Regions from separate parts of the Homo sapiens genome. Here all the other regions are reported to be linked to region 2. Evidence: microRNA targets listed by miRTarBase, many of them from high-throughput screens and not tested one by one. Region 2 holds a microRNA gene; each other region holds the end of a gene's coding sequence.
Evidence for each region. Region 2 holds the annotated microRNA hsa-miR-6828-3p (AUCUGCUCUCUUGUUCCCAG, at 2,049-2,068, opposite strand). A microRNA usually pairs through its seed, bases 2 to 8, with sites in the 3' UTR of a target mRNA and lowers its output. Matches are read on the target gene's strand: a 7mer-m8 pairs with bases 2 to 8, a 7mer-A1 pairs with bases 2 to 7 and ends in A, and an 8mer does both.

Region 1 (3,208 bases), not on the chromosome of region 2:
CACCAGTCAGCCCCATCTCTACTGGACTGGCTTCTCTTTGAGGGGCTGAGCACAGAGCGGGTGTCCATATTAGAAAGCTACAATTAATTATTATTATTATTATTATTATTATTATTTTTAGAGAGAGACAGGGTTAGCTCTGTTGCCCAGGCTGGAGTACAATGTTGTAATCAGCTCACTGCAGCCTCGACCTGCTGGGCTCAAGTGATCCTCCCATCTCAGCCTCCTGAGTATCTGGGAATACAGGCATGACACTAGCTTTTTTTTTTTTTGAGATGGAGTCTCACTCTGTCACCCAGGCTGGGGTGCAGTGGCGCCATCTCGGCTCACTGCAACCTCCGCCTCCCAGGTTCAAGCAATTCTGCTGCCTCAGCCTCCCGAGTAGCTGGGACCACGGGCGCGCACCATCACGCCCGGCTAATTTTTTGTATTTTTAGCAGAGATGGGGTTTCACTGTGTTAGCCAGGATGGTCTCGATCTCCTGACCTTATGATCTGCCCGCCTTGGCCTCCCAAAGTGCTGGGATTACAAGTGTGACCCACCGTGCCCGGCCAATTTTAAAATTTTTTTGTAGAGACAGGGTATTAGTAGGTTGCCTAGGGTGGTCAAACCTTAAGTGATCCTCCTGCCTTGGCCTCCCAAAGTGCTGGGATTACAGCTGTGAGGCACCATGCTTGGCCAGGATTTGGTTTATTTTAGTATTAGAGACAGGGTCTTGCTGAGTTGCCCAGGCTGGAGTGCAGTGACGCGATCATAGCTCACTTCAGCCTTGAACTCCCGGGATCAAGTGATCCTCCAGCCTCGGCCTCACAAAGTGCTGGGACTACAGGCATGCACCACCACTCCCAAAATTCAGGAATTTTTTTTTTTTTTTGAGACAGAGTCTCACTCTATTGCTCAGACTGGAATTCCATGGTGCAGTCTTGGCTCACTGCAGCCTCCACCTCCTGCCTCAGCCTCTCAAGTATCAGGGACTACAGGCACGTGCCACCATGCCCAGCTAATTTTTGTATTTTTAGTAGAGACAGGGTTTCACCATGTTGGTGAGGCTGGTCTGGAACTCCTGACCTCAGATGATCCGCCCGCCTTGGCCTCCCAAAGTGCTGGGATTACAGGCATGAGCCACTGCGCCCAGCCCAAAATTCAGGATCTTTAGGCTCAGACCATAGCAGGACTCCAGTCTTAGTCCCAGTTAGGTGAAGACTAAGAGGGCACAGAAATGGGATTGGGGTGCAGGGGGCAGGAGTGACCCAGAGTGCATTGAGGGTGGGAGCATGTGGCATGTGGGACCTGCCTCTCTCCATAGGTCCCAGATGGGTTTGGCGGCTGTAGCTTCAAGACTAACAGGACCTGCTGGACCATTTGGGATGCAGATTTTGGAAGGGAAACTGAGACAAATTCTTTATTTTCTTTTCTTTCTTTTTTTTTTTTTTGAGATGGAGTCTCGCTCTGTTGCCCAGGCTGGAGGGCAGTGGCGCAATCTCGGCTCACTGCAAGCTCCTTCTCCCAGGTTCATGCCATTTTCCTGCCTCAGCCTCCCGAGCAGCTGGGACTACAGGCGCCCGCCACCACGCCCGGCTACTTTTTTGTATTTTTAGTAGAGACAAGGTTTCCCCATGTTAGCCAGGATGGTCTCGATCTCCTGACCTTGTGATCTGCCCGCCTCGGCCTCCCAAAGTGCTAGGATTACAGGTGTGAGGCACCGCGCCCACCTCCTCCCTCCCTCCCTCCCTTCCTTCCTTTCTTTTTTTCTGAGACAGGGTCTTGCTCTGTTGCCCAGGCTGGAGTGCAGTGGCATGATCTCGGCTCACGGCAGCCTCTGCCTCCCGGGTTCAAGTGATTCTCCTGCTTCAGCCTTCCCAGTAGCTGGGATTACAGGCAGGCACCACCACACCCGGCTTTTTTTTTTTTCTTTTTTAAATTTTTAGTAGAAACAGGGTTTTGCTGTGTTATCCAGGCTGGTCTTGAACTCCTGGTCTCACGTGATCTGCCCGCCTCAGCCTCCCAAAGTGCTGGGATTACAGGCGTGAGCCACTGCGCCCAGCCCAAACTGGGACAAATTCAAGCTTTATGGTCACATATGAATGCAAGGCATGGCTCTGTGCAGTCTTGGGTCAGTGAACCTCTCTGAACCTCCATTGTTCCACCTGTAAGATGGGGTCCTTCACAGCTCCTACCTCACAGGGCTGTGAAAACATCGTCCTTGTTGGGCACTTAGTAAGTTAACTCGTGCTTTCACCTGGCAAAGGTTTATTGCCTTAGTGATGACAGAATGAGCAAAGTCACGCTTGTTAAGGACCCCCCCCTCCCCAACTGTGCCTGGCACTTTGCCAACAGCACAGGACTCAAGACCCATTTCTTAATCACATGGCAGTTGGGAGGTAGATTCTGCTGTTAGTCCCCTTTGACACACACAGAAATGGAGAATGGGCAGCAGGTGTGATGTTGGAGGAAGACCAGGGCCCAGGGGCGGGGGCTGCAGCAGTGACCTGGTGACCCAGGGCCTGGGCAGGACTGGAGGCCAAAGGACTGGACTTTTAGGCTATTGCAGCCCAGGTAAACGAGGCTCTCATTGGCAGGGCCTGGCTCCCCACCAGGCCGGCAGGCAGATAGGCGGGCGAAAGAGAAGGCAGTATCCCAGGGCCCAGCTCAGATCTTCTCCACGTAGTTTCCTGGGAAAAGGCCCTCCTGGCCGTGAAGCCGGCCCTTCCACCAGCCCGAGGGATCTGTGGGAGAGAGGAAAGCTTGAGGTGCCCCTAGCTGGCCCTGGAGAAAGCTCTCATGCCTGGTCTGTCCATCTTGTTCATGGGGACTCCCTATGTTGTCCAGGCTGGTCTTAAACTCCTAGGCTTAAGCCATCCTCCTGCCTCAGCCTCCCAAAGTGCTGGAATTACAGGTGTGAGCCACTGCATCCGGCCATTTCTACTCTTTAAAAGTTTTTTTTTTGTAAATCTTTTGTAGAGATGGGGTCTTGCTAGGTTGCCCAGGCTTGTCTCAAACTCCTGACCTCAAGTGATCCTCCTGCCTCAGCCACTGAAAGTGCTGGGATTACAGGTATGAGCCACCTCGCCCATCTGTTATCTCTGTTCTCCCGTGGGGAGGGTGTGCAGTGGTGGGGTCTGCCTGGCAATGTCAGTCAGGGTTCTTTTTTTTTTTTTTTTTGAGACGGAGTCTCGCTCTATCGCCCAGGCTGGAGTGTGTTGGCGCA
Region 2 (3,273 bases):
GAGAAGGGTTTCACCTGGATTCTGCAAACCAAGTTTACTTGTGGAGCTTTCACTTTCCTGTTGGAAAGGGAGTCAGACAATAGACCTGACCTCCATAGAGCACTGCAAGAGGGAGCCCCTGTGAGTCAGATAAAGCACCGGATGCTGATATGTGTTCCGTGTGACGCTGGCACACAAATTCTTTGTGGCTGGAACCAAAATTTCCACATTCAGATTTTTCTCTGGAAATTAGTGGCCTTTTCACTCCTGTTAACACACACACACGCGCGCACACACACACACACACACACACACCCTTGTGGCTTCACAAGAACCTGCAAACCTCCGTCCCTTTGCAATCCTGGAAAATGGTGCCCCACCTCTCATGTCCCCTCACCTTACTGGTGTCATTATGAGTGTGAGGCCTCCAGATGGGAGGTACCCACCAAGTGGCATCAACCCACACAGAACCCTGACCCCTTATCCTTACCCCTCAAATTCATCATCTGATATGCCAATCTGGGGGTATGAATTCCTTGTTTCAGAAGAAGGTGATTTTATATCTAACCCATTACCAGACTAATTTGTTGTCACTGATATGCGCACTTTGCAACAAGAGTTGTTCTTAAAATTCATATTGTCTATTAGGATTTAGAATGTGCTAATGAAACTAGCATCTGAGGGAAAAAAACGGAGAGAAATTAAATCACTGACGAGAAGAGAGCTAGAAGGACCCTCCATAGGTTGTTAAATGAAGCCCTTTATGTGCAGGTATAATCAGCAAAACCAAATGAGCACATGCCATTTCCTGTCCCTGGACTGTCCCTCCCCTCAATTCATGACCAGCCCACCTCCTCTTCAAGTCTCAGAGCTTACTGCTGGGTTCTTCCACTCTGGAAACTCATCCAGTCTGGGTTAGGTGCCTTCCTATGTGTATGCACAGACTATATACCTTTTCTACATGAGCACATACCATATTCTATTGAGGTTTCCAAGTACACTCAAAGCAAAGACGGCCTATTTTCCCCAGTGTCCCCAGTACCTACCATGGTGTCTGGCCCACATGCTCAAGGAAGGCTTACTGAGTTAAAGGACGGAGCCATCACCTGGTGGTCTAACCACCCTCAACTCCTGACTTTTCTCTTGCCCTCTTCTTTACTTTTTTCTTTCTTTCTTTTTTCTTTTTCTTTTTCTTTTTTTTTTTTTTTGGAGTTGCACTCTGTCACCCAGGATGGAACGCAGTAGCGTGATCTCAGCTCACCGCAACCTCTGCCTCCTGGGTTCAAATCATTCTCCTGCCTTAGCAACCCCCGCCCCGAGTAGCTGGGATTACAGGCATGCACCACCATACCTGGCTAATTTTTGTATTTTTAGTAGAGATGGGGTTTCACCATGTTGGCCAGGCTGGTCTTGAACTTCCAACCTCAGGTGATCCGCCCACCTCGGCCTCCTTCTTTATTAACTGAGCTGCTCAGTCTTGCCTGCACATAAGCATCACCTGGGAAGCTTTCAAAAAATATCTTTGCCTGGCCTGATGCCCAGAAAATTCTGATTCAATTGATCTGCTGTGGGACCTGGGCATAGGTGTTCAAAAAGGATTCCACTGTGAAGACTGAGAAGGCTTCCATCTTTCAGGTCTTTCCCTTAGGTATTTCCTACCTTCAAAATCCTCTTTCTCTTTTTAAACTTATCTTCATGGTCAGTGACTCCCAGAGACATTACTTAGCCCTCTGTGTAAACTGCCCATAAAATACAAAGGGATACAGATTGTGGGAGTCCATCCCCCACTGGCTTCACTTGGCTTCCTTTCACATTTCTCTTGAACTTGAGAAGGCAGCAACCACAAGATCTGAGATTCATCAGGCTCCCTCATAGGTAGGGTACCACTGAGAAAGCTGTCTTACCCAGCAGAATGAGCAAAACACCAGCCAGCTGGGCCCGCCTGTACTTAGCCACACCGGGCTCCTGGCCCATCCGGATGCAGGGAAGAACAGTCAGCAGCAGTAAAATGGCCGGCAGACCCAGGACCGAGGCAGCAATCATCAGGGCGCGGCAGGCCTGCACGTAGCCTGGGAACAAGAGAGCAGATGGGAAAGGTTAGACCACAGGGTTCTCTTGCTTCCTGAGCCCTGCCTTAGGGGAATTCAGCACCATCTCCCTTCCTCCTTCTTGGTGGATTCCAGGACTTAGAAGGTGCTAATGTTGTCCAAGGTCACTAAGCACTTTTTAACTTTTAAAACAACTCAGCAAGAAAAAAGGGGGCTGGAGAAACTAAATGGGGACCCCTGGTTTAGGCCACTTGGCCAAGCTTCCAGGATGGAGGGGCCAAGAGTCCATTTACATTATTACATCCCCCTGAGAAAGTTCAGATGAAAACTGAAATCTCCCAAGAATCATTCTGTGAGGGCCTCTATTGGTTCCAGTCTGCTATTGATAGCTCTACCTGTGTGACCTTGGGCAAGTTACTTAACCATGATGTCTTATTTTCCACATCTATAAAGTAACAACAGGCCAGGCATGGTGGCTCACACCTCTAATCCCAGCACTTTGGGAGGCCAAGGCAGGTGGATCTTCTGAGGTCAGGAGTTCAAGATCAGCCTGGCCAACAGGGCGAAACCCCATCTCTACTAAAAATACAAAAATTAGCCTGGTGTGGTGGTGTGAGCCTGTAGTCCCAGCTACTTGGGGAGGCTGAGGCAGCAGAATCGCTTGAACCTGAGAGGGGGAGGTTGCAGTGAGCTGAGATCGAGCCACTGCACTCCAGCCCAGGTGACAGAGCGAGACTCTTTCTCAAAATAAATAAATAAATAAACAAACAAAGTATTGATAATAATATAATAGTACCTACATCTCTGTAATAGAATTCTACTGAAGATTACATTAGTTAATTTATTTAGTGCTTAAAACAGTGCCTATACCAAATCCTCAAAAAAGGTTAGTTGTTATCATTGGTGTTCTTTGTCTGTCTCAGTGCAGCGCTTTCATCTTCAGGTGTCCTAGGTGATTTTCTCCTAACCATGTGCTTTCATTCACATTGGCTGTGGCCCTAACCCAGACTAAACTAAGACTCAGGCTTCCTCTCTTTGCTGTCTCCCCAGAGGCTGCTGTCCTCATGGATCCTGCCCCTAAATTGTTGGACCCCATCTCCTGCCTCACCCACAGTGCCCTGGGCATCCTTCCCCAACTGTCCATCATTGCTTAAAAGGCATCTCTCCAGCCCTCAGGGTTCCTGGAGGGCAGACACCTGCCTTGGTATTCACGGAGTTAACACAGTGCCCACAACAGATCATGGAA
Region 3 (3,273 bases), not on the chromosome of region 2:
ACCTGGGGGACACAACTGCCCACAGCAGCAGTGCCCAGGCTGAGCCCAAAGCTGCTGAACAGCTGGCTACCACCACCTGCCATGCTCTGCCCCCAGCTGCTCTACTCTGTGGCATGAGGGAGGTGAGGGCTGGTGGCTGCTGCCATGCCCTACCTGCCACAGGGATCCTGGCCTTTCCCAAACTAGTGGCGTCAGTGAGCGAGTCTGGGCTGCAGGCTCAGCATGGGGTGAAGATCCACTGTAGGTTGTCTGGGGGGCTCCCTGGGCATTCCCATTGCTGTGCCCACCTTTGGGGTCCCGCTGGGTTAGTCCCAGAGCCTGGCTCTAGGACCAAAGATGTGTGGACCATGACCTCAGCCAATGACTTGGCCCCTGCAGAGGCATCCCCGCTGTCAGCCCAGGATGCTGGTGTGCAGGCGGCCCCAGTGGCGGCCTGCAAGGCTGTGGCCACCAGTCCGTCCCTGGAAGCGCCTGCAGCCCTGCATGTGTTCCCAGAGGTAACTCTGGGGTCCAGCCTGGAGGAGGTGCCGTCCCCTGTGCGGGATGTGCGATGGGATGCTGAGGGCATGACATGGGAGGTGTACGGAGCTGCGGTGGACCTGGAGGTGCTCGGTGTGGCCATCCAGAAGCACCTGGAGATGCAGTTTGAGCAGCTGCAGCGGGCGCCCGCCAGCGAGGACAGCCTGTCTGTGGAGGGCCGGAGGGGGCCACTGCGGGCTGTCATGCAGTCCCTGCGGCGCCCCAGCTGCTGCGGCTGCTCCGGCGCGGCCCCCGAGTGAGGAGCTGTGGCCCTTGGAGCTGGCCTGGGCCCACTGACTTAGTCCTAGACCTGGGCCAGGGACGGTGGGGGCTCCGTGCCCCCTGGACCCACCGGCAGCTGGGCACATCTCTCACCTGAATATTGGCTGCCTCCAGACCACAGGACTGCAGCCTGGGGCTTCCGGCCCTACACAGCTGGGCTGTTTTCTTAAGGGCTTGATTTCCAAGGGCCACATCTCTGCACCTTCCGGGCTCTGAACTTTGAGACAGGGCTTTAGCACTGTGCAGAGGGGAGATCCTGAGTTTTCTGTAAAAAATGACCTTTTGTTCACTCCACCCTCAGAACTCTGCCATGTTGCCTCGTCAGACTCTTGGTGGCTTTATTTGAAATCAGTGCTGAGAAATAGTGAATTCTCGACATGAAATGTGAGGCCCCAGTGACAGGGACTGCCCAGGTCTTTAGGGAAGGGGACTGATGTTATCAGAGGCCTCCTGTGTGCCACATACTGTGCTTGTCCTGTCTTCACCTCTTCATCCTGGCAAGCCTTCATTTGGCAAGGCTGTAGCCGATGTGCCCCACGCTGGACAGCTTGAAGAGGTGGGACTGAGATCCAAAGCCAGGGCCAGCTGAGCCGTGGGTGTTGCCCTGTAGCATGTGCCCGGTCCAGTCAGTGCAGTCATGTATGAGGAGAATTTACTGAGCTCATACTCTGTGCTGGGTTCTGTGGATTCTGTGGTGAATGAGACAGAGGCTGCCCCTGCCCTGGCTGAGCTCATGGTGTGGGTTGGGGATGGCAGGGGAGGATGCTGACCATTACGGAGGGCTGCCAGGCTTCCAGGGTCATTGTGTCAGAGGCTGGCCTGAGGAAGGGGAGAATGGGTGGCCACCTGCCCTAATCTCAGTTACAAAGCCTAAAATTGCACTATTTTCACCTCATTCTGTCGGCTGAAGGATTTCTCCCCAGCTGGTGCAGTTTGTGGAAGGAGGGAGGGCAGGAATGGAGGGGGACAGGGCAGGAGTTTGCCCTGGCCCTGGGGTAGGGGCTGTGAGGCTGTGGGGGCTCGCTTGCCCACATGACCTGACCTAGGCTAGGCAGTGGGGGCCAGGGGCCTTGGAGAGACAGAAACATGGGCTTTGGCACAGTCTGACTTCATTGCCCAAAGATTTCTCGAGGCCTGTGAAGAATGGGAGTGGGCTTGTGTTCTTGTCCTGGGTCTTTGTCTTGAAGATCCTAAGATCCCGTGACACAGCCCCCCAATCCACCCGTGTGAGGGACCAGAGGGCTAGTGTGGGGTCATGGCCCACGACCTGGCCTGTTTCTGGAGCCTCTTCTGCACCTAGGAGCCCAGGACCCCCACAGTGGTGGCTTACTTTTCCCCATCCTCAAGGACCTGGTACTCATTGAGGTGGAAATGACTCATGCAACAGTTGGTGAATTTGTAAAGCAGGAGTGGCATTTCAACAGGCCACAAGGACAAAGTGACAAAGGCGTGCGTCAGGTCAGATGCCTCCTGAAGCCCAACGATGGACCATTCTCACCCGTAAACATGCCTTTCCCATATGCATAGGTGCACCCCTTGGGATTCTGGGGCTGTCAGTCCCTTTGTGTATGGTGCCAGGGCAGGCAGCTCACGTTCTGGGGAGTGACACATGGGTATATGCCATCTTCATGCCTGGCTCCCCATGGAGTCTCCAGGAACCCCAGCCTGTTAGGGCCACATGAGAGAGAACAAATGGCTGTGGGTGCATGGGGAGGGACCTTTCACACAGGGCCATAGCTAAGTAGGGTCTTGAGGATGCAGGGGTTAGACAGGTGGGTGGAGAGAGGGCAGGACCTGCCTGGCAGATGGAACAGCCTGGTCAGATACTTGGATGTGCCTGTCCTGCCTGGGCCATAATGAGTTTCTGCAGTGGCGGCTCATTTGGAGCGTTTGTTGGGTTGGGAGGTGACCAGGGGTCCCCATTGTGAAGATCCTGATGTAAATGAGGAAAGGAACTTTAAGGGAACTGTGGAAGGGGTTCTGAGGTGGGACCAGATTTCAGTTTAGAAATATCCATTTGGCTTCCAGTGGAGATGTGCCAGGTGACACCAAGGAGGGGCCTGTTTAGGGGCAATGGAGTGGGCAGCTGGGGGCTGGGTTCATACACGTGCACACACACGCATACACAGGCACACATGTGTGCAATGGATTTGGGGAGGAGGCATTTCAGGATGCTGAGGTTTCCAGTTTGAGCAAGAGGAGGGTGAGGCCACTACCTGGGTCAAGGTGAATGGCATGTTCAGCAGGTGCAGAAAGGGCCACCTGCCACAGGGTTTGGCTGGGACCAGTGAAACCTACTTCATGAAGAGACTTTCTTCTGTGTCACGTGCAGATTCTTATGCATTCACGCTGGCTGGGTGCCACTCTGTGCTACCTCCATGCTGCCCTGGCTTGCCAGGATGGCAGGCCGGGCTGGGCTCAGCCAAGCTCCCACTCACCTCATCGTCACTGAGATGAGTATTTGCAGAGCGG

Region 1: the mRNA of MYO1F is a reported target of hsa-miR-6828-3p. Seed matches in the 3' UTR shown: 7mer-A1 at 2,387-2,393.
Region 3: miRTarBase lists GPRIN2 as a target of hsa-miR-6828-3p. The part of its 3' UTR that is shown has no 7-base or 8-base seed match.

Annotation. Positions count from the first base shown.
Region 1 is chr19:8,518,879-8,522,086 of GRCh38, forward strand. It overlaps MYO1F (myosin IF), which reads right to left. Exons shown (of 28, transcript NM_012335.4): 28 at 1,900-2,726. The coding sequence ends at 2,650. Among named protein-coding and RNA genes, the nearest start is that of ZNF414, 6.3 kb to the left of the region's middle.
Region 2 is chr3:170,421,938-170,425,210 of GRCh38, reverse strand. MIR6828 (microRNA 6828) reads right to left here and starts at 2,108; the gene lies at 2,049-2,108. It overlaps CLDN11 (claudin 11), which reads right to left. Exons shown (of 3, transcript NM_005602.6): 2 at 1,884-2,048.
Region 3 is chr10:46,546,866-46,550,138 of GRCh38, reverse strand. GPRIN2 (G protein regulated inducer of neurite outgrowth 2) reads left to right here. Exons shown (of 3, transcript NM_001385282.1): 3 at 1-3,273. The coding sequence ends at 779. Among named protein-coding and RNA genes, the nearest start is that of GPRIN2, 8.2 kb to the left of the region's middle.